Linked DNA regions of Homo sapiens. The protein of the gene in region 3 purifies or fractionates together with the protein of the main gene of each other region. This does not show direct contact. Each region holds a gene or a part of one and is shown on either strand. Other genes may lie near its edges.

Region 1 (4,057 bases), on a different chromosome or scaffold from region 3:
ATCCAACTTGTTTTAATAAATGTAGGCACAGATTTCTTACTTCACCTTTTCCAAACTTCTGTCCTTCTTCCATTTCCCTGCAAATCCACTCATGTCATTGCAAAAACAAATGCTAGTTGACTGCATTATGCACAACTACAATTGTGGAGCTGGACAGAAATTTTGTACCAATGCTAATCATGGTGGAGTGAAAAAACTCAAGTGCCTGGGATTTGTGGGGCCTAGAAAACTATCCAGTACATTTAATATAATCGGGACCAGTGACAAATATATCTGATGGACTGCTACACAGAGATGGGCCAGAGATGTCCCTGGAGAAACATTTCCATGAAGTCTTCTTCCACTATTAGAAACATGTCTTATGACTTTGGATTTTAAAAAATCTATTATTCTCTGGATAAGTTAAATAGAAGACTCGCAACTAGTCTACAGAAAGGGTGCCTAATTTGCATTTAAAAAGAACAGTTTGCTTCTTATACACGGGGTGACTTAAAAGGAACTTCAATGAGCTAGTAAAGAAATTCTGAATACTTTCTAAATTAATTTATTCAATTCACAGCACAACCCACTAAAATTATTTAAAGCACTTAATTGGAAAATGATTTAATATATTGAAGTAATTCCTGATTTTCCAAAGCATTTAACTTTTAAATTAAATCTGACCCTACTTATCACAAGAACGAGGAGTGAAATGTGTATCCAAGTCATTAACTTCTTTTTGGGGCCTAAAATCACTGATAAACTTAATAAGATTTGTCCAGTCTCATTGCCAAAATAGTTCTGAGCTTTTGGTTCCGGTAACTACAGTGGAATAAGTCTTTACTCTCCAAGATAGGGCTGCAACTTTATTATTTTTTATTAGCAATAGTATTGGTGTCATAAGCAAAATAAAACGTAACACAATACTTGAGTGTACAGACAAAACAGATTTTAGACTAAAAGAACTATGTCACCAGCAAATAATGAAACTTCATCACACAAACTCCTATGCGCTTGCCAAAGTTCCCCGTACCTTTCAACTTGCCCGTAGCTGAAGGGCTCCCTGTACAATGGAAGCCCTTCTGCCTTGCTCAAGACTGGATGTCCCTCTTTTCTAACTTGCCTAAACACCATCGGCACACAGCACAGTCCTTTGAGTGGGTCTCACACTGGACACAGCATCGAGGAGCTTCTCCACGGGGAAGTGTGTGTGTGAGAGCCTGCCTGTGTGTCAACACTGTCCAAGACTCGGAGCTGCGACTCGGTCGCGTGGTGCGGAGTCCAGGGCTGAGAAGGCAGCGCACTAAATATCTCTGTATCAGGTAAAAAAGCCGTTTGGTGATGACTCGCCACCAGGCAAATGTTGGGAGTCCCAACGATTTTTCCCGTGGAATGCACCGAGGGTCGCCATGGATGTGCCTGCAGGGGCTGTGAGTATCAGGCAGATTTATCACCAAGCGAGAGTTGGGCGTCTAAAAGGCCCGCCCAGCGTTTTAGAGAACTCAATTCTCTCTGCCAACGTTCATCCAACGGGACTGCTTAGACACGTCCAACTAGCCCTAGGCGTGGGCAGTCGTGCCCCTGCGACCACTCTGGGGGACCGGTCCCTGCGTGTCCTCCCTCTCTGGGATGAGAGAGTTCGAGAAGCCGGGAGAGTAACCCCCTCCCTCGTACCCCCTGACTGTCCTATAGGTGGACCCAGCCGAACTCCGCAGCAGCCCAGGCCAGCGCCCCACCTCCGGGTCACCGGCATGATCCGCCTCTCCCCGGGCCCCCGCGGCCCTGGCACCCGAGGTCAGCGGGCCGTGGGTACAGCTCAGCCGCGGACCCTGCTCCGCGAGTGCGGGAGCTTTGGACTTGAACGCGACGTGCTCGCCCGGCTCCCAACAAACTTGCAATTTCCGCGCGCACCCCTTAAACAGGAACTGTTCCCCAAACCTTGACCCAGCTACCCCGCTGTGCTCTGGCCCGCGGACCTGTGTCCGAACCCGGGCTCGGCTGCCGGAACCGGTTTGAGAAAACAAAAGAGTTGTGGGGCAGTTTTCCCTGTGGGGGGCAGGGGCGCCTCCCAGGTCCCTGCACCCCGACTCCCGGCTGCTCCCCTGGCAACTAATCCGGAGAAGGGAAGTGGTGCCACGAGCCCCCACTGCCCGGGGAGGGAGGGAGAGAGAAGGGGGAACTGGGAAATAAACTGAATTCTCTTACTCTGCCTCCGTTCCTGGACCCCAGACACACCCCCAAAGTATTCCACGGTTTTCTCTTATTATTTTTTTAAACGCCCCCCGGCAAACCTAGGCAGGGATCCTTAGCCGCGAACAGCAGGAAGGAAAGAATCCGAGCAAATCGTGTCACTTTCCGCACAATCGCGGTGTTTGGCAAGCCCCCGGAGCTACTCCACAATATTTACTACCCAAGCGCACGCAGGCTGCAGCGGGCTGCGAGCCGAGCGCGCCCGGGACCGGCCTCCGCCAAGCCGGCCCCGCCGCGGCCCGGCCACCGCCGCTCCCCTCCCAGGATCAAGCAGCAAGAACACGGTGGAAACAAAAGCAGAGCGTTCACCTTGTTGCAATAGTAGGGGTCCAGGCAGGGAGAAGGTCCCAGACAGGGAGCGTCGGGCGCAGCGGCGGGCTGGGCTGGAGGTGGATAAAATCTTACGTCCATTTCACTCTCACATCAAGCAACTCCTTTTCTTTTTCCTTTTTTAAAAAAAAGTGTTCAGCAAAACAAGCTTAGACGGAACAGAGTGAGGTGTCTGGGCTCAGGAGTAAAAGAAACACCTTCCTTCCCTCACATCCGTTTGTGGTTTGTTTAAGAAGAAGAGGAAAAAAAAAAAAAAGAGGGGGGAAAAGCGCTCAACTCTCCCCCAAGCCGCGGCGCGCACCCGTCGGCGCCGAGCGCGCAGCCTGCTCCACCGCCGCCTCTTGGTCCCGCCGCCGCCGCTGCCGCCGCCGCCGGGCAGGTAACTTCATGCGCTCATTGTCCCCCCCGCCCGCCCCCCCATCCCCGCCTCCCGCGCCCCTCGCAGCCCGGCACACGCGCTCGGGCTCTAGGTACTGGGCGTTTTATTGGAGATTCTGAGTTGTTCTGCTTGTAGTTTATTTTCTCCACCTTGGAGGCCCGGGATGTGGGGGGTGGGGGGGTGGGGCGGGGATCCAGAAGGGACAGGGCGGGAGGGGGGCGAGCGTCCCGGGCCGGGCGGGGTAGGGAGCGCGGCCGGACGCGGGCTCGTCAAGGCCCAATGGCTGCTGTTCGGAACCAGAGGCCGGGGACCGGAGAAAGGAGGAGCGGAGAAGGAGAAGGAGGAGAGCACGGCCTGGCTGGGACAGAAGCGGTGGGACCCTGGGAGGCCTCCGCTGTGCCCGTGCCGCGCTCCTCGGGACCAGCGCGTCGCACACAAAGGGGCTGCCGAGCCAGAGCCACCAGCGGCCTCAGGGCACCGTGGGGAGCGCGCAGCTAGGGGGCGCTGTGGCGCACCCCGCCCCGCAGCCCCGCCCCCGGCCCTCCCCGGCCCCACCCCACTCCCACCGCCCTCTCCGCGGCCGTCCCCACCCCTATCTCCGCGACCCCCACTCCTCCTCGGCTGTTCCCCAACCCTGTCACTGTGCTCCCCTCCCTACTCCCGGCCCGTAGTGGAGGTGACTTTCCTGCGCAGCGCCGCTTCTGAGGGCGGAGAACCCACAGGGAGTGCGACCCCTTTGCACGCTGTGAGTGGGCAACTGTCCGAGGGACTCGAGCCGATCGAAGGGTGAGGACCAGCTCGCCTGGGGGTGGACGGCCTGGAAAAGCCGCCCCTCTTTGGCTTCCCTCTGCCGCCTGCAGCCCGCACCCCTCCGAGATTCGTGCCCCACTGGACGGTTTGCGAAGGCTGAGGCTGCCTTGGGGACTCACAAAAGACCACAGGGGTGATTCGAAGTGTAAATAGGGAAACAATCATCAGCACACAATCCGGCTAAAGGGATAACATATGAGTTTGCTTGTTGTCCTTCATGGGATTCTTCTCTTTTTATAGCTGGACGCCCTATAGGGCTCTTGGCAGTCCACGAAAGACCTGGAGTCCGCCTCCCCATTTCTCCGGTCG
Region 2 (3,500 bases), on a different chromosome or scaffold from region 3:
TTCCCCATCATGGGCAAGGAAGGGAATTCCCACAGCCCTCCAGTGTACTGAGGGTACTGGCCTAGCCATGTGGAATTCCCTACCCTGACTCCTTCCCCAAACCCAGGGAAAAGAGCTCTCAATTTTTTATTTTTAATTTTTGTTTGAAATAAAGTCCTTAGTTAGCCACTTGTGTCATTTCCAGGTTTTCTGGGGGAGTGCAGGGGGAGATGGGTGATGAGGTATGAACGGATGCCTCAGTGTCCAAGATACAAAAGGCACTACATAGAAGTTTGCTTTTTCCCTGCCTGTCTTGGTCACTACCACCTCTTCCCTGAGAAGGGCGGGCCTTCCATGTTCTCTCACCCGCTTCAACTCCACATTGTCCAAGTCACAGAAAAAGAGAGGCCTGAATGGAGATTCGACCACAAACAGTTTTAATGGTCTGGTTTTCTCCCTAGTTCCCCAACTGTTTGTTAGTATTATTATTACTACAAGAATAAAGGATTCCTGAGAGCCTGTCCCCTCCTCTCCTGTGGCCCCCTTGACAGGACTCATCCCTACCAACCCCCCACCCCCCCGCCCCGGATTTCTGGGGAAAAAAAGAAGTGAAAGGCACTGCAGGGGTAGGGGGCTTGAGTGCCAGTGAGTTGGGGTTGGGCGGGGGCGGGGGCGGGGGTGGGCACTAGGGCAGGGCCCGGCCTAGAGGAGGAAAGTTCCAGTCCATGCCTGAAGGAATTGTGGAGAGGTGTGTCCATCCATGACACCCCCATCAGTCCTTCCCTGAACCTGTCTAGCAGGCATACCTAAGTCCCATCCTCCCACCCCCAGGCCCACACTGGGGGTTCTGCAGCAGGAGCATAAAATTAATTAGTGTTGGGCTCAGAAAGGAGGAATGGAGGGTCCACTCTACTAGGACTCCAGGGCCAAACCCAAAGGGAGGTTGCAAATAACTAGAATAATCCTCAAATGCTCTTCTTCTTCAGGTTGGAGAGACAGGAATTAACAAAATATTAATGTTAATGAAAACTCCCCAGCCGAGGGATCAGGCAGCAGTAGGGAAAACCAGGCTCCAAGAGGAAGGGGCTGGTCAGTCCCAGGCCTTGGAGACTAGTTGTCCCCAACAGCCCCCTGCCGAGCCCTGATGAACGCCATGCCATGCGTGCGGAAGTGGGTCTTGAGGTTTAGAGGGCTGTCGCAGCTCTTGCCACAGACCTTACAGGTCAGTGGGCCTCCAGAAGCAGGCAGGGGTGAGTCTCCACCATCGGGGTCAGACCTTGATGGAGGGGCCTCTTCCTCCCCATCCCCCAGCCCCAGGGCACTGGCTTTACCCACACCCCGTCTCTTCTTGTGGCTGATGAAACGGTGTCGGCTCAGGGAGCCAGGGGAGGCAAAGCACAAGCCACAGTCGAGGCACTGCTGGGCACCATCCTCCACCCTCAACCCCATCATGAGGCTCTGTTCTGTGGAGCTGCTGCTCCGGTAGCGCAGAGGGCCATGGCCTCCAGATCCAGGTCCGCCCCTGGGGGACTTGGCTGGCGGTGTCGTGCTGTCAGGCTCCTCACTGCAAGAGTCAGAAGACTGGCGGCGTTTCCGACCTGGCCCCTGAAGAAAAGTGGAAGAAACTGGGCCTTACCACCACCCCTACTGTCCCTGGCACCCCCATGCTCGCTTCCTGAGGCCATGGTCTCTGCCTTCCAGTTTCCCACTCAAAGCCCTAGCACAGCAGGCCGGGCCTCTGCCTACCTGGGCTCTGGCACTGGAACCCCGAGCCAAGGTGGTCCCCCGGCCAGGGGACTGGGCCCCAAGCTGCAAGCCGTGCCGGACCTGGACATGTTTCTCTAGGATCAGGCGGCTGCTGAAGGTGCGTTTTCCCTCTGTGCAATACCTGAAATGGGAGAGGACAGGATGGCAGCAGCGGCACAGCCCGAAGGCCAGGGCCCTTGCTTCTGAGGAGGGGGCTGCCAGAGCAGAGGGAGACCCCAACCATCAGGCCACTTAGACACGTCGCAGGTGCACAGGTACTTTGGCATACAGGGAGAGTCACGTGCTGGGCAGGAAGAGGAAGCGGGGAGCAAGACTTACCTGCAGGGGTAAACTCGCTTGATGCCCTCGTGATTAACTCTGACATGGCGCCTCAGGCTGGGGGCGGAGCAGAAGGAGCGCTCACACAGGCGACAGGGGAACTTTTTCACTGACTAGGAGAGCAGGGGTAGATGTCAGAGCCAGGCTCCAGGACCCCGTCCCCACTGTCACACTGGCAGTCCCAATGCTGCCCCCAGCCCATGGTACTCCCCTTGGGGCCCACTCACCTTGCCATGCTCCTTCTTCATGTGGGCCACGTATTCATCACGCTCAGGGAACCAGGAGTGACACAGGCCACAGGTCCAGCCTCCAGGCCCCCCACCCCCACCCTTGAGGCCTTTGCTCCCTAGTTCCCGCCGAGGCCGTTTGGCTGGACGGGGGGGCTCAGGGGAGCTGGGTACTTCCTCCTCTTCTGAAGATGAAGACGACTCCTCAGTAGCAGGGGCTGCCCCTCCCTGAGAAACAGCCAGCTCCTCAGGCTCAGTCTTGGGGGTCAGCAGGGCACCCCCGGCCCCTTTCCCAGCAGTCTCCTCCAAGCGCCCAGACTGATGGGTGTTCTGTGAGAGGAGACAAGGGAGGTTGCTGTTGTGGGGGAGGGCCTGGCTATGCCAAAGCCCCCCACTTCTGAAGTATGTGGCCCCAGCCCCAGGTCAGTACAGCTAAGCACCCATTCCCCATCCCTCTGCTCCTGTACCTTGAGATGTTCCAGCATGGTCCTTTTTTGGGCAAAGAGCAGAGGACAAGACGGGCACTTAAAGACACTGACACGCTGGGGCAGCAAGTGCTGGTCGAAGTGTGAGGAGAGGAGGGGTTTGTGAGTGAAGACTGTGTCGCACATGGCGCACTTGTAGATCAGCCTGAAGTGAGGACAGTGCAGACATCAGGCAGGGTTGGGTGCAGCCCCTCCCCTCCTGCGCCCCACCAGCCCTCCCTGGCCCAGCCCGGCCCTCCCCCGGGCCTCACTTGGCCTGCTGAGTTTGGAAGCTGGGATGCTGGGAGTAGAGGTGGGCATGGGCACTTGGCCCAGACTTGAAGGCCATGGGGCAGATGGGGCACTTGTGGAAAACCTCGCAGTGCGACGTCTGGATGTGGGACTTGATGGAGTTCACACCCCCAAACACCACTGAACAGCTGGGGCACCTAGGGAGGAAGCAGGAGGCCCTGTGGTGAGGTGGGAGGCATCTCCATGCCCACCCCGGGACCATACATTTATTCTCTGGGACTGGGTAGACTACAAGAAGGAAATCAGTAGTGGAGCATGAGCAGGGTGGAGAAAGGAGAGAGGTGCAGAGGCTGTGCCCCAAGGGAGGCTGCCAAGGGAGAGCTGGAGCTCCAGAGGTGGCCCTGCTTCCCCCCATCTCCATGGGGGACGACGGGAAGGCAGGACGTACTATCTCAGGGTTGAGTCTGGCAAAACAACAGGGCTGAGGGATATA
Region 3 (3,500 bases):
CCACTGCTGCCAACTTCCTAACTCACTCTTCGGCCTTAGGCATGACCCGTCTTCTCTCTGGGCCTCAGTTTTCCTAACTGTACAGTGGGTGAAGAGGACACCTGCAGCCCCACATCCTCGGGCTCACCATCCTGAAGCTGTGGGTTGGGAGCCAGGCAAGAAGAGACCTGAAGGTCTCAACGTACACCCTCTTTGTTCCAAGGGCATCGGGAGCCTACTTCCATGGGTCCTTCTTGAAAGGGGTGCTGTGGAGCTCGGGGCAGAGGACACTATGACCCATGCAAGTCTCCTCCTTCCCAATTAGGCAGTGGAGCCTGATTAAAAGGGGTGCTGCCTGCCCCCTCCCACCCGATCCCCATCGACGAGATTTCCCTTCATCAGAATCTCACATTCTCCAGAAATTAATTTGATGCCTCATGTTATCAATTAATTGAATCTCGTTGGGAGAGAGAGCTCCGCGAGGTGAGGCGAGCTTCAGCTTGGCCCTTGTGTGCCGCCATCCCCCCTCCCCCTCACACCAGGGCAGCCTTCTCCTCCCCCATTCCTTTTTTTCTGCCTTTCTTTTAATTGCACTTATTTTCTAAAATAAAACCACTGCTCTGTGCCCCTTTGCCCAGTTTGGCTTGGATGGATACCCATGGACTGGGTACTGGCTGGGATTTGCCCTTTCAGAGGTGGGGGCAGGAGGACTTCCCCTCCCCTGGACCCTGTCTGATCTCTCCTTAAGTAAACAGAATCTCACCCTTTGGGAATTTGGCCGTGATCCTGTGTGCTCCAGGGGCTTCTGGTGAGAAACTTAGGAGGACTAGGGGAGGGAGGAAGAGCTGGGAACAGACTGCACCCTAGTTGGGGACAGAGGAGGTAGAGAAGGACCAAGCTAGGGACCTTTTAACCCTCAGGATTTTGTCATTCAGAAGCTGCTGCCCCTGCCAGAACTGATCCATTAAAACACAGGGCAGAGGGCATAGGTGTGTGGTACCTCCAAGCCTCCCAACAGTCAGGTCAGATATCTGCAGGAACAAGCCCTCAGCATTTTCAAGGACACTTGGAAGCCCTTGCTCTGCCCCCTGCATGGAAGATGGGGGAAGGAAGTTCTAATAGGACATCCCTATTAGGAAACCTGGGAGGTTGTTGTGGCAGGTAGAGCTAGGTAGTCACCAGGCCCTGACTGAGGAACTGTGCTTTGCCGTTTCACATACCTCCTTGTTCTTATCCCCACAACAACCCTGAAAGATTCTCCAGGCAGTGGTAATTATCACTCTCATTTGATAGGTGAAGTACCCAGGCCCAGAGAGGTTACCTGACTTGCCCCGAGTCACAGTTAACTGGAACTTGCCTTTCTGAAATGCTGGCCATAAGGGCTGAGGTCACAAGTGGACTAACTTCATCCCTGCTGAGTTTTGTTGACCCACACACAGTTCATTACAATGGTAAATTTCACATAAATATCCCCACTTCTGCTCCTTTTGAAAAACCCAAGCCCTGTCAACACTGAGCCTGCATTTCTGTGTGGAAAGGATGGACTGGGATTGAGTGGCAGCTGCCTCCTCGTGCCCTCCTCACCTGGCCTCCTAAGTGACCAGCCTAGCCCCTGAAGGCATTTTGGTTAGCAGCTTTGACATGGAGATTCACCTGTCCCCAGTATTCCTCAAGGAGAATCTAGTGTGGGACAGTGTCTGAAGGACTCTGCAGGGTCTAGCCAGGCACAGTGGCTCATGCCTGTAGTCCCAGCACTTTGGGAGGCCAAGGCAGGTGAATCACCTGAGGTCAGTGGTTCAAGACCATCCTGGCCAACATGGCGAAACCCCATCTCTACTAAAAATACAAAAGTTAGCCGGGCGTGGTGGCAGGCACCTGTAGTCCCAGCTACTCAGGAGGCTGAGGCAGGAGAATTGCTTGAACCCGGGAGGCGGAGGTTGCAGTGAGCCGAGATTGTGCCACTGCACTCTAGCCTGGGCGACAGAATGAGACTCTGCCTCCAAAAAAAAAAAAGACTGCAGGGTCTGTACAAGAAGATCTCAGAGAGAGGACCTATAAGGACACCCTGACCCAAATCTAATTCCCACACAGCTACTTAATAACTGATGGTGGGATGGGCGCAGTGGCTCATGCCTGTAATCCCAGCACTTGGGAGGCCAAAGTGGGAGGATCAGTTGAGCTCAGTTTGAGACCAGCCTGGGCAATATGGTGAAACCCCCTCTCTACAAAAAATACAAAAATTAGGGTGTGGTGGCATGTGACTGTAGTCCCAGCTACTCGGGAGGCTGAGACCAGAGGATCACTTAAGCCAAGGAGGAAAGGTTGCAGTGAGTGAGCCGAGATCGCGCTACTGCACTCCAGTCTGAGCGACACAGAGTGAGACCCTGTCTCAAAAAAAAAAAGAACTGATGGTTGTGGGTGATTCTTTTTGCCTTCTTTCTACCACAGAGGTTAGGTCTTTGTACCATAAGGCCTTGTGTCTCCGGGGGCCTGTTTCAAGATGAAATCAGCGCATCCCTGCCAGGGTGAGCCCCTCTATGATAAAGTCATCACTTGCCCCCTACATCTGAGGAAATGAAGGGAGGGGCCAAGGCATGTCGGGGCAGGCTGGGCAGAACAGCCAGGGGCCCAGAAATGGCCATACTCAGTGGTTTGTCCCAGGCCCTCTAGAGCCCCTCCTGTGCCCAAAGGAAACCCTGGTGCCAAAGGCACCACCAGAACCAGGCTCCAGATGGCCATTCAGGCCCTGGGCGAATTGCCCCTACCCCTTAACCAGCAGGCCCCCCACATAAGACGTCACTATTTAATTAGCCGTCTCTGATTAACCAAACTTGGCATTCGGCTCCTCTTGCCCTCATCTTTCCCAGCTCCGAATCAATGGCTTTGATATGCTAATTAGGGAGTAATTTAATTTCAAAAGGCCGCAATTAACAAGGGTGTTGTGGACATGCTGTAGTTAAGCGGAGTAATCTAATTTGCATTAGTAACAAGCAGGGACTAATTAGAAGCTTAATTAGACACTTAGATGGCTCTTATGTTTACTTTCTTAATGAGATGGAGTGGGATCTTTGGTTCTCTTTCTTTTTTTCCCCCTGTATTGTTAATTCTTTTTTTTGGTCTGTGTAGTAGGAAGGGGTATTGAGGGAGGCCACCTTGCCAGGGCCTGTGGGAGCGTTTCAGGGATGGAGCCAGTAAAAGGTAAGGTGGAGGGTGGTGGTAGGGGTAAGGGAAGGCTTGGATTCCAGAGTGACTCGGGGAGTTAGGACGCGGGGAGGAGCACTGGTTTAGGAGTCAGGAGAGCCACCTGGTTTCAGTTTGGCTCAGTCACTTAGCAGTCAGGTAACCTTGTCAAGTCTTTGGCATCTTTGAAGTGTGGTTCCATCCTCTGTCAAAATGAGCGCAAAATTGCATGGGGGAGAGAGGAGGGAGGGGCTATAGGAAAGCACTCTTGGGGACTCTGTGAATGTTTTTTTTTTTTTTTTGAAATGGAGTCTCGCTCTGTTGCCCAGGCTGGAGTGCAG
Region 4 (2,611 bases), on a different chromosome or scaffold from region 3:
CAAGCCTCCCTTGAAAGCTTTAAGCCTTCAGTAGATTCCGTAGTTACAGAACAGCTGCATCAGGCAGATCCTGCCCGCGAGGTAGACATCTACCTGGGCAGCCAGATTCCTGGTGCTCCCTATTCCACCATCTTCCCAGAATCCTCTCAATCTTATTCTTGTTCTCAAAGTCAAACTTTTAAATTTTGTCTCAATTTTCATTGTGAAAAAAGGCCAAGGAACTTGGCTTATCTTTCTCTGCACCACAGGCACCGAAAAGGAAGGTGCCTCTTTGCCCTGTGTCCACCAAGACCTCCACCCTTGGCCACCTTCCACCTTTTCAGGGTGGGCTCCCGGAGGATGTGCCTCAGACAACATGTGGTGGTGGGGTTTGCACCCACAGGGACCACCCGGGCCCACCGCGTCTGGGCCTAACAACCTACTTTCTCACTCAAGTATAAAGTAAAACCAACAAGACAGACAAATTTCTAGATAATAATCCTGAATTAGAGAAACACAGCTTGTTTAAAATGCCCATGCGCGTTTTATTAATAAAAACTAACAGTGCCAAGTTAAACAAGTCAAACAATTAAAGTCTCTTTATATACCATAAAATATTACAGAAAAGTTTATTTGTGTTTCAATAAAAAGACTATCGTTTTAGAACAGGCAGCTAATAGCAACTGTGCAGTTAATGGGTTTTGTGAATAAATTTTAAAAGAGACTACTGCCTGTCCTTAAATTCCTTTTTCTTTTTATAAAAAAAGAACTATTAAAAATGATTGACAAATTTTGAGTTAAAAAATTGTTAAAACATTCTCTATATTTAATTTCAATTTTATAATAGATTACAGGAAGATGCTTATGAAACAAATACATTTGTTTCAGTACATGTCTTTAAATGATAGACTTATAAGTATGTAAACAACTATATAATAAAAGGTTTCCAAACGCTGCCTGTAAGAAATCAGGCAAATTTTACCATAAGCAATAAACCATTCCAAGCCTTCCAGACAGTCTCCATAGCCGCACCAGCATGGCAATAAGCTTTAACCAAACGAAAACAAACAAACAAAAGCACTTCGCAATTTGTTGCTGCAAAACAGGGAGAGAAAAGAGTGTACAAACTTGATGGAATCACAACAGTCAATATAATTTAAGGGACAATAAAGTCAATAAGGTTGATGGTGTTTATTGTTTAAAAAGTTGAATTCTGCTGTTTGCTTGGGGCTGTTTAGAAAGTTGCATTCTGCTGTTTGCTTGGACACCGTACCACTGAACAAACTCCACAGAGTCTTGCTATCCGCCAGCAGGGGTGCCGTCCAAACTCACGGCAAATAAGCGGCATCAGGGGCTCACCATCCACAACAGGAGGTGTTTTATTTTCATGGATGTGGTTGAAATACAATTTCTTCAGCAAACTCAGCAAAAACTTTTCAGGGGCAAAAATGAACTCTGCACTTAAAGAAAAATAGCAAATGAAAACACAAAATCCTAACAAGTAAATAAACGCTCTGCATCAGCACACTGGTATCAAAACACACATCCACAGCACGTCCTAATCCTACGGGAAACAATCCTTGCTTATCAGAGGTGCATATCTAAATTCAATAGCTTACCAATATCTTCTTGGGAGTAGGCCAAAAGGAAACAGAAAACCCACATTAAAAAAAAAGTTTCTTTTCGCTAAACGTTTTCCTGAAGCCGAATCTGAAGTGGGGAGGACGTCAGTCGTCCTCGTCATTCTCGTTGAAGTCATCGTCCTCCTCGTCGTCCTCCCCGACGTAGGACACCGGAGTCTCCACCCTGGAGCCGCTGTACTGAGACCCATTGGAGCTTGTGGCCAGCATCCCATCTGCACCGTTGGTCAGGTCACTGCAAGGCAGGAGGCGGATGGCGCCGTCAGTGCAGGCGGCCCACCCAGCCTCCCCCCGCCTCAGGGCTTGTGGTCAAATGACAGGCTGTGCCCCACAGGTGTGGGTTTTGTCAGTCACACAAACAGAACGGGGAGGCTGAGTGTCTGCACTACAGCACGCCAACGCTCTGGCACTTACTCCATCTCTGTCTGGTTCTCTTCTGGCCCTGTCTCCTGGAACCCATAACGACAGAAACAGGAGGCTGAGCAGAGCCACACGCTGCCTCTCCCTCACTCATCATTCCATCAGGAGCAGTGCCCCAGAGGGAACAAACTGTAAAACCATTAGATCCCTCCCTCCGGGACTTTCACTCATAACCAGCAACAGGAAAAAAGAGAGCCCGGGGCAGGACAGGATGGAGTCCAGAGCGTGGGTCGAATCTGGCAGCGGGGACTGAGAACCCAGAGGGCTGGCAGCACCACAAAAACCTACCACCAACCAGAGCTCACTACGTTCCTAATGTTTAAAGATGTTTTCAATTAACATAAAACCATATGTACATATTTTAATACATTTTAATGGTATTTATTAACACTACAATAAAAATGTGTTAATGTGCCTTTTGATGAAGTAATTCTGTATCTTGGAAACAAGTCAGAAATGGCGAGAAATTCAGCTGTAAAGCTGCTCACTGCAGTTTTTATTCTAACTGGGAACTACCTAGATGTCCTTTCATGAGGTACTTGTATAAAATGTCTCATCATGCCACTATGAAA
Region 5 (2,508 bases), on a different chromosome or scaffold from region 3:
AAGGGAAATGCTGTCTAGGTTCCAGGTTAGGGGCTCTTTCTGTAATTGTTCAGGAGCTAGGCATGACTAAGGGATGGAGGGGTTAATGGTGATGGAGCTAAGTGAAATTCTCCATGTAGAGTTTTTCTTAATCCTGTCCCTGCACAACATATCACTGCAGCCAAACCCATGCGTATCAAAGAGGATATTCTCGCCTGCTCAGCTGCTGAGCTCAACTACGGTCTGGCCCAGTTTGTGAGAGAAATCACTCGGCCCAATGGTGAACGATATGAACCTGACAGTATCTACTATTTGTGTCTTGGCATCCAGCAGGTACCTCTTGTGCACCACCTCACTTCCTGTCACTCTTAACACAGCAGGCAGGGTCTAAACAGAAATGATTCTGGGTTAGGCACGGTGGCTCACGCCTGTAATCCCAACACTTTGGGAGGCTGAGGCAGGAGGATCGCTTCAAGCCAGGAGTTTGAGACCAGCCTGGGCAACAAAGTGATACCCATCTACCCAAAAAATATTTTTTTAATGAAAAAAAAAAGCAGTTATTCTGTTGCACTCCCTGTTCCTCATCTTGTCCCCTACCTGAAGCAGGCAGCTTGCCTTTAATCTCCTACTCCAAATAGAACATGAGATATCAATACTCTTCTAAAATCAAAACTGCATTCCAGGACCGTTGGCCAAGGAGCAGTCTTCATTGCTATCCAGGTCCCCTTTGTAATCTTTAAGCCCATTCTAGGAGGGGAGGGATGGGTGGAGCTGGGATCCTTGAGTGCTGGGGTAATGTTTAGTTCCCCCTGGGAGAAGTCAACCATGTATTACCTGAGAAGGAGGTGTGGGCTTCTAAAGAACATCTCCTCCAAGCCTCCTCCTCTTCGAGCAAAGCCTGAGTAGCGCAGAGCTGTGGGTATACCTGGGGGAAAGCACTCGAGGCCACCTAATCAAGCAACTGTTTCCCATCGTCTCCTAATGATCAAGGACACCATACCTGGGGGCTTCAGCATCATTATCTTTCTTCTAGGACCTACAGTCTAGCCTTAGGTGTGTCTGTTTTTCTTTCCCCAGTACTTGCTGGAAAATAACCGGATGGTGAACATTTTCACGGACCTTTACTACCTGACTTTTGTTCAAGAACTCAACAAGTCTCTGAGTACCTGGCAGCCCACACTCCTCCCCAACAGTAAGGAACAGGGACGTAGCAACCCCTACCCGCTTTCTCCATTCTTCCAATCCACCATCCCGAGAGTCCTGTGCTGTTTGGTCTGCCACTCTTCACAAAGGGCCCGAGGGCAGGAGCGTGTAGCTGGATGCCTCAGGGTTTAGAGTTAAAGGAGCACAGGAGCGCCTGTTCTTGAACGTGAGATGGGGATCAAGACTTAGGTCTGAAGAGCTATCTCTAGGACCAGAAAAAGATGGCCTGGGTTTGGGTGGTAAGTAAAGAAAGAAAGCAAGAAATCGTGGGACTCCTCAAGGTTTACATTTACTTGTCTACAACTTGAGGGTGGTGAGAGGCGTTCCAAATGCAGGTGTGGAAAGTATATATTTTTTAAAGCCCAGTCCCACTGTGTAGTGTAGCAAGTGTAGCGAAGTGACAGTGTTTTATATACAAAGGTTACTCACCAAATGAGAATTGTGTGGGAAATGAGCAGGGCACATGGGATGGGAAGTGGTTGGGTTTGGGTAGCCACTCCCTCCTGACTGGCCTCTCCCCCTTGACCATTGTAGATACGGTGTTCTCTCGAGTGGAGGAGGAGCACCTCTGGGAGTGTAAGCAACTGGGGGTCTACTCGCCCTTTGTCCTCCTCAACACCCTCATGTTCTTCAACACTAAGTTTTTTGGGCTGCAGACAGCTGAGGAACACATGCAACTCTCCTTCACCAATGTGGTGCGGCAGTCCCGCAAGTGTACCACCCCTCGGGGCACCACCAAGGTGGTGAGCATCCGCTACTATGCCCCAGTCCGCCAGAGGAAAGGGCGAGGTACGAGGCTGCCCCCTCCCCTGTGCTTTTGCCCCTTCTCTGCCTTCCCCTTCCATGCCCTGCCATAACCCACCATACCTGCCAGGTCGGCCCTCTCCTTGGCGCCTAGCTTCCCTCTCCTGTTCCTGTGTGCAGAAAGGGTAGAAACAGCCAGTCCTCCTACCTGATAGGCAGTAGCTGTTGCATAAATAAGAGGTCACCCTCTGGCCTGTTTCCCCTCTTTCCTCATTTAAGACAGTTTACTTGCTTGCCTGCTTTTTCTGGGTGGTGGACAGGTAGGAAACCATTGGGTGTGTTTGGCTGTCGGGGAGGGTAGAATGACAGGCTTTCTGTGATTCTTTGCTATCGGGTCTAACAACAACTGCACCTTGGTTTCCATTTTTTCTGTCCCTGGACTTCTGTCCTGTCTGAGTGAAGTTTCCAAGGTCCTTTCTCTGGACCCATGCTTCTACCTGGACTAATGCACAAGGGGTTGGGGTCATTGCTGTTTCTCTATCCCAGAAGGCAAGCCCACCCTTGCAGTAGGGTCTGTTTTAT
Region 6 (3,122 bases), on a different chromosome or scaffold from region 3:
ACTCACCACCTTATACAGCTCCAGGCCCAACAGGCCTGCCACAGCTGCTGTAGTGGTGGCAATGGCTGGGATAATCTGGCCCACAATTCGCTTGCTCTGCCAAGGACAAGAGATTTGGTCTGGGCCCAAGGCGTAGGGCCAGGGTTTGCCCTCCACCTCCAGGCCCAAGCCTCAAGGGGTGGGGTTACCTGGGCACGGTTGACCGGTGGAATCCCGTAGTTCTGACATCTCAGGCTAGCTGCCGCTACCACAAAGTCCACATGGAAGTTGCTGTCATCATCCTGTAAGGCCCAAGTCAAAGTAGTGTTAACACTGCAGCTGTGCCCCTCACCGTGGCCCACTGCGTGTCACTGCACAAGTCTCCACACAGTTCTGTCGGGGGGTTGCCCCACATCTCCTCTTGATCAGACAGGCTGAGGTTCAGGGAATGTGAGCTGCTTCCAGGGTCTTGCTGGGAGAATTCAGGCCAAGGGGCTCCAAAACTACCTTATTAGCTCCTGACCTTTCTCCACAAACTCCCCAGCCCCACTCCTCACTGCCACTTGGGCACCCACCTTCTCAAACATCAGAGGCTTCAGGGGAGGGCCCACACTCCAGACTTCCAGGGCTTTGTTCAGTTCCTTCTGCTGCTCAGGGCCTGTCAGGGGAGGGGATGTTGAGGCAGTCCTTAGCCCCTGTCTCCTGCACTCTTCTTGGAGCCCTGTGCCTATTCTTGGTCTTTGCCAAGCCTGTCACTTACTATTCCCTGATCAAATCAAGAAGCCCCCTTAATTAATGCTACAATCTCCCCTCTAGAAGCCCCAGTCTTCACCCATGTGTGCTCATGACCTCTGTGACCCTGTCCTCACCTGCAGGCCATAGCTAGACACTCCCCAGGAACCAATGGACTTTATTTATTTACTTATTTATTTTGCCAAGAATCTGCCACAAGAACTGGGATGTGGGGTAGGCAGCAGGGAGAAGACCTACTGAGGGACCAGAGGATAAGCCTGAAACTATGGAGGAGTGAGGTTAGGAGGCCTGAGAGGTAGCAAATTGGCTGTAGATCCCCTAGGCCCTATCTTCCTTCTGCAGCACAGGCTGAGGACAGGACAGGTTCAGGCCTTTGAAAGACAGCATGAGGGGCCAGGGCCAGGAGCCTCACCAAACTCAGCAGAAGCCGAAGCCAGCTCTAGATTACTAGCAAAGATGGGGGCCATCTGTTGGGGGTCAGGCTGTGGCAGCAGCTTCAGCAGCTCCCTGAGTGCAGTCCAGTCCTGTGAGCCAGGCAGCCCATGCATCTGGGCATACAGGTTGGCAGCTGCCAGTACGTAGAGGAGGTGTGTGTCCTGCAGCCAGACCAAGAGCAGGAACAGAGGCATGGGTGCATGGGGTGGGGGTCACTGTCCATTTGTGGATCTGTTTGAGTGCCTGCCTTTGCCTCACATGTAGACACCCATATATGCACAAGCATGGCTCTCTCTGGGCATCTGTGCATCTCTGCAGAATGCAGAAATGCCTACCTCTGCTCTGAGGGGCCACATCTCTATCTTGGAGCTCCCTACAGAATCCCACTCACTTGGTTGGTGTCAAACTCCAAGGGCTGGGGACACTGTTTGGGACCTGACCAGAAGGGAGTTCCATCCTCAAGCACCTAGGTAGGTAAGTAGAAGCTGCTGGGCTCAGTCTGGTCCCCCTGAGCCCCCAGCGTCCCAACCCCTAGCCACACACTTTATTAGGTGGGAAGTGCCTCAGCAGCTGTTTGATGCCATAATGAAAGCAGAGTTTCCAGTGGCCAAGAGCCCACGCCACACAGTCTTGCCAGTTCTGTGGACGCACTCTCAGGACCCCAAGCACTGGCTTCAGTAAGGTGAGTGTCTGTGGCTCATCCATGTCTGCCAGGGAAGTGTGTGCCCTGCAGAGAGAGGAGGAAGTGTGAGACTGAGTCCTGCAGACTCATGCTTGGAGCCCTGGACTCCCATCTGCCTCTGTTGGTGGCCTTACTGTTGGTGGTGGTTGATGGTCTCTGCAGACAGTCGGAAGAGTTCTTCAAACTCATGCCGGGCCCACTGTGGAGGAGGGAGGAAGAATGAGGTATCAGGTGGAGAACAGGTCTGCAGCTGAGGGCTGAGCTGGGTGGGGTGGGAGTCTCCAGGGTGCTTCCTACCTGCAGGGTGTGCTCGGCTGTGCTAGGGAAGTACCGCACGGTACAGACAGGGTAGGGGGCATCCTCAGAAGCTGCAGCTGAGGCAGGGGCTCTGTAGGCCTCAGTCACATGTGGCATGAATACTGTAGCACTGCCCCAGGTGCCCGATGTGCCTGCCTCCAGCAGTGGCTTCAGATAGTGGGTGCAACGAGCAGCCACATAGCGCCCTGGCAAGGGAGCAGTGGGTCAGAAGTGGGACTGGCACAGCTGTGGGCAAGGGACTGACCTCCGAAGTCAAGCACTCACGGGCCTGGAAACTGTCCAGGGCAGCAGCCACACCATCCACACGGGAGAAAAAGTTATCCCCATAGATGTGCTCTGTGGTGGGATCCAGTGGGTAGGTGAGCGGGATCACCTGTAAGTCTGGGTTCAGGCCCCGGGCAGCTGCTGCAGCCACCTCTGCCTTGGGTCTCTGGGAAGAAGGCAGGAAGATGTTGGGTGGGAAGCTGTATGGGAGGACGGTCTGGGATGCAGGAGTGTGGAGAGGGGTCAGCACTCACACCAACGTCCTGGGACCTGAAGAGGAACTGACGGCTGAGATTGGAGCGCTCTATGTGGTCCATGTCAACAACAGTCAAGCCCCCGCTGTTCCCGGCCCCCAGTCCCACTAGGGCAAAGACTTTGAGCAGCTCACAACCAATGGCACCAGCGCCCACCTGTTGGCAGGAACAGCCTTAGCCAGAGGGGCTGGGCTGGCTCTCCCAAAGGCACCCCCAGTCTCACCCCACAGCTCACCAGGAGGTAGTGCTGGCGTCTCAGTTTCTCCTGAAAACCAGCCCCAAACACTGCAATTTGCCCATCATAGCGGCTGCCTCTCTAGGGGACAGAGACGGGGTCAGTGATGGCTACTGGCCTGCATCTCCTTCTTATACTGAGTTTTCTGAATCAGGACCTGGAGGGCATTCCTCATGCTTCTCCCCTAGTCCTGATTTTGGAC
Region 7 (3,500 bases), on a different chromosome or scaffold from region 3:
ACAATTTTATTTAAAAAAAATATATAAACCATGTTCTTTAAAGATGGAAAATACAAAAATAGAATTGAAAAATAGAAAATCAGTGATGTATACTTTTGTTCAGGATTTTTGTAACACAAGTTACTTTGAATATAATTGTAACAGCATAATTTTTATTTACTTATTTTATTAAGAGTGTCACATGTTAATTATGGGGTTACCAGAAACATCATTTAATGGCCATGTATTATAACATTAATTAATTAGCCAGGACCCTTTTCCCATTGTCAGGCAATCATCGTATTAAATTTAAAAAGAGGTTGCAAGAAAGACTAGCACTGTTTTGATAGGAAGGTTAAATGCAAACTCAGTTGAATAGTAGACATTTTGAATCTACTTCTAAAGTTTAATAATACCCAAGCGCAGGCCAGGTGCGGTGGCTCACGCCTGTAATCCCAGCACTTTGGGAGGCTGACGCAGGCGGATCACGAGATCAGGAGATCGAGACCATCCTGGCTAATATGGTGAAACCCTGTTTCTACTAAAAAATCCAAAAAAAATTAGCCGGGCGTGGTGGCAGTCGCCTGTAGTCCCAGCTACTCAGGAGGCTGAGGCAGGAGAATGGCGTGAACCCAGGAGGTGGAGCTTGCAGTGAGCCGAGATCGTGCCACTGCACTCCAACCTGGGCGACAGAGCAAAGACTCCATCTCAAAAAAATAATAATAATAAATAATAATAATAATACCCAAGTGCAGGTTTTCCAACCTTGTTTCCCCCCAAAAAAAAAATTTAAATTTGGAAAACGTACGTTCTATAAAAAAATTAAATTATATCACACCAATTACTTAAATTCCCCTCACTCTGGGCCAAGTTTTTAAATACTATTTATAGATGAAAATCTAGACTACTGATGTAAAACATGCATACATAAATATTACTAGACAGAACTTGATAGTATATACCATTGGGAGTTAGTACAGCACAGTAGTCAAGAGGCTAGGCTAAAGTGAGACTACCTGGGTTGGAATTCTGGTTCTACAATTTACTAGCTTGTGACTCTGGGTGAGTTATGCCTTCAATTGCTCATCTCTAAAGTAGGATAATAATAACCATCTCAAAGGGTAGTCAGGAGAATTCGCTGAGTTCTTATTTTGTTTGTTTGTTTGTTTGTTGTTGTTTTTTTGAGACAGAGTCTCACTCTGTCACCCAGGCTGGAGTTCAGTAGAGTGATCTTGGCTCACCACAACCTCTGTCTCCCAGATTCAAGGGATTCTCCTGCCTCAGCATCGCGAGTAGTTGGTATTACAGGTGTATGCCACCATGCCTGGCTTTTTTTTTTTTTTTTTTTTTTTTTTTTAGTAGAGATGGGGTTTCACCATGTTAGCCAGGCTGGTCTCAAACTCCTGACCTCAAGTGATATGCCCACCTCAGGAGTTCTTATTTGTAAAGTTCTTGGCACACAGTAAACACTCTACAGCTAGCATTTAGTTTTTAAAAATTTTTTAACTTTAGCTAACATTTACTGAGCACTTAGCATGTGCTAAATTAAATGCTTTACACGAATTTGCCTCAAATAATCTTCACAAAAACCTAGGATGAGGCACTATTATTGCTCCCGTTTAAAGATGAGAAAATTGAAGCAAAAAAGATTAAATTATTAGGCTAAGGCCATACAAGTAAATGTCAGAGCAACAATATGAACTCCAATCTAGCAGCATGGCCTACAATTTCAACATAGGTTATAGGATATACTATATACTAGAAGCGGTAGCCTCCTGCAGCACTCTGTCTTGAAAAGAGGGCAGGAGAGTCACAAGAGACTTTGCTGAAATAAACTAGAATATTCCAAGAAATAGTTTATAAACTATACAGAGTAATTAAAAATTAATACAATAATTATATTAACAATTAAATTATATCAATAATAATTAATATAAGAAAGTCACTGTAATACAGAAATACTTATGTATGAAGTGATCTGATGTTTGATATTTGTTTTAAAATAATCCAGCTTGAGAGAGAAGAAGGGATAAAAGAAGCAAGATTAGATACTGGTTAAACTGTGGTGATGGGTATATGGGGCTTATTTTATTCTCTCTACTTTTATGTATTCTTTAAAATGTCAATAATAAAAAAGAAATAGCAATGAGGTGGCACAGATTAGACACTTCATTACAGAAGCAAACAACTTTTTTAAGACACCCTGTCTCAAAACATTTTAAAGGGCATGACAGAATTGATACTTATACATGTTATATTTTATATATAATTTCTAAAAGGGTAGCCTTACTTTAAATGAGAATCCCCTTAACTAAAATGAAAAATTAACGAAAGTATTTAGGCATAAACATGTAAATAAACATGCTAAATGGTTGTCTGTATTTCCATCAGCTCACTAAAAATATTTGCTTAAATAATTAACACTCATTTTTTTCTTCATGTCTTTCTCCTCCCTGATCATCTCTATGATTATGACACTCTATGGTTTGTTGTCCAGGAAATGAGATGGGTTTGTACAGACAAATATGTCTCTACAACATGGTCACAAATTGAATATGAATAAAAACCAGAAATCTGCTTCACTAAGAAACACTGCTAAAAATTTCTCACTTCAAATTGTAGTTTTAAAAATATTTGATTTTCATACTAATGTATATCTATGGGCTTCTTACACGTACAAAACAAATTTAACCAATTATTTATTTGAGAACATTTTATATGCTCTAAATTATACTGTTAAAAAAATTTAGCTGATACTAAAGGAAAAAACTAACATTTATTAAGCTAGACGCTATGCTAGGCAATTTAATACACATTAGCTCACTAAATTTAAGAGACAGCTACATTTTAACAGGAAGAATATTAAAGTTTAGAGAGGTAAAATCACTTGCCCGAAGTCACAGAACTAATAAGGAGCTAAGTTGGTATTCAAATTTAAGCTCAACTACAAAACCCACTTGCCCCCCACTATCCCGGACTACCTCCAAGGGAGGCAAAAATCTTCTCAAGTCAAACTTAAATATTTAGGGCCTTTTTAAAGTAGACCATAAAATGTTTGTTACTGGTTACATGTGTATTTCACGGTGGCCGCTTTGCATAAAGAGCACTAACTGAAACGCAGAAAGTATTATTTCTTCTACTGTGGGACTTTTTTTTTTTTTTGGTTTCTTAATTTCAGCCTTAGTTTCTCTTCTCTACAATGGGGAAATTAGTACCTTTGCTGTCCAATTCCAAAATTATAAAGATTTAAAGATGATATATGTGAAATCACTTCAAAATCTACAAAAACACAAGACTATTTTATGTCTTAAAATGTTAAAACACACACACACACAAAGCCAAAAGTTTTCTAAAGTAAGTGTAAGCTGTTTAAACTAATCTACAGACTCTATTAACATTTCCAGAACTTTCTAAACCCCTTTCTTCTAAGCATAGCTCAATCATCATCGCTATTACTTGGCTTTCCTTACCCTTAAGTATAATGCAATAACAATGGCATCAATGCTTTTGCAATAAATAAT

Evidence for each region.
Region 1: the proteins of FOXP4 (region 3) and TOX purify together in Homo sapiens (affinity purification with mass spectrometry, with the first as the bait; one study listed by BioGRID). This does not show direct contact.
Region 2: the proteins of FOXP4 (region 3) and ZNF687 purify together in Homo sapiens (affinity purification with mass spectrometry, with the first as the bait; one study listed by BioGRID). This does not show direct contact.
Region 4: the proteins of FOXP4 (region 3) and TFDP1 purify together in Homo sapiens (affinity purification with mass spectrometry, with the first as the bait; one study listed by BioGRID). This does not show direct contact.
Region 5: the proteins of FOXP4 (region 3) and ZMYM3 purify together in Homo sapiens (affinity purification with mass spectrometry; one large-scale study listed by BioGRID and IntAct). This does not show direct contact.
Region 6: the proteins of FOXP4 (region 3) and UBA7 purify together in Homo sapiens (affinity purification with mass spectrometry; one large-scale study listed by BioGRID and IntAct). This does not show direct contact.
Region 7: the proteins of FOXP4 (region 3) and NFAT5 purify together in Homo sapiens (affinity purification with mass spectrometry, with the first as the bait; one study listed by BioGRID). This does not show direct contact.

What each region holds. Positions count from the first base shown.
Region 1 is NC_000008.11:59,116,348-59,120,404, forward strand, and holds the start of TOX (thymocyte selection-associated high mobility group box protein TOX), read right to left. Parts: upstream 2,801-4,057; 5' UTR 2,641-2,800; coding exon 2,539-2,640; intron 1-2,538. UniProt on the Homo sapiens protein: Transcriptional regulator with a major role in neural stem cell commitment and corticogenesis as well as in lymphoid cell development and lymphoid tissue organogenesis.
Region 2 is NC_000001.11:151,288,799-151,292,298, reverse strand, and holds the end of ZNF687 (zinc finger protein 687), read right to left. Parts: intron 3,205-3,500; coding exon 3,028-3,204; intron 2,922-3,027; coding exon 2,759-2,921; intron 2,622-2,758; coding exon 2,292-2,621; intron 2,178-2,291; coding exon 2,065-2,177; intron 1,868-2,064; coding exon 1,726-1,867; intron 1,585-1,725; coding exon 1,090-1,584; 3' UTR 123-1,089; downstream 1-122. UniProt on the Homo sapiens protein: May be involved in transcriptional regulation.
Region 3 is NC_000006.12:41,552,881-41,556,380, forward strand, and holds part of FOXP4 (forkhead box protein P4), read left to right. Parts: intron 1-3,500. UniProt on the Homo sapiens protein: Transcriptional repressor that represses lung-specific expression.
Region 4 is NC_000013.11:113,639,363-113,641,973, reverse strand, and holds the end of TFDP1 (transcription factor Dp-1), read right to left. Parts: intron 1,855-2,611; coding exon 1,707-1,854; 3' UTR 501-1,706; downstream 1-500. UniProt on the Homo sapiens protein: Can stimulate E2F-dependent transcription.
Region 5 is NC_000023.11:71,241,633-71,244,140, reverse strand, and holds part of ZMYM3 (zinc finger MYM-type protein 3), read left to right. Parts: intron 1-160; coding exon 161-312; intron 313-1,056; coding exon 1,057-1,171; intron 1,172-1,716; coding exon 1,717-1,971; intron 1,972-2,508. UniProt on the Homo sapiens protein: Plays a role in the regulation of cell morphology and cytoskeletal organization.
Region 6 is NC_000003.12:49,807,832-49,810,953, forward strand, and holds part of UBA7 (ubiquitin-like modifier-activating enzyme 7), read right to left. Parts: intron 3,002-3,122; coding exon 2,921-3,001; intron 2,842-2,920; coding exon 2,686-2,841; intron 2,598-2,685; coding exon 2,432-2,597; intron 2,353-2,431; coding exon 2,147-2,352; intron 2,049-2,146; coding exon 1,984-2,048; intron 1,895-1,983; coding exon 1,711-1,894; intron 1,634-1,710; coding exon 1,559-1,633; intron 1,329-1,558; coding exon 1,145-1,328; intron 638-1,144; coding exon 555-637; intron 282-554; coding exon 189-281; intron 97-188; coding exon 1-96. UniProt on the Homo sapiens protein: E1-activating enzyme that catalyzes the covalent conjugation of the ubiquitin-like protein product of ISG15 to additional interferon stimulated proteins (ISGs) as well as other cellular proteins such as P53 in a process termed protein ISGylation.
Region 7 is NC_000016.10:69,568,966-69,572,465, reverse strand, and holds part of NFAT5 (nuclear factor of activated T-cells 5), read right to left. Parts: intron 1-3,500. UniProt on the Homo sapiens protein: Transcription factor involved, among others, in the transcriptional regulation of osmoprotective and inflammatory genes. Binds the DNA consensus sequence 5'-[ACT][AG]TGGAAA[CAT]A[TA][ATC][CA][ATG][GT][GAC][CG][CT]-3'.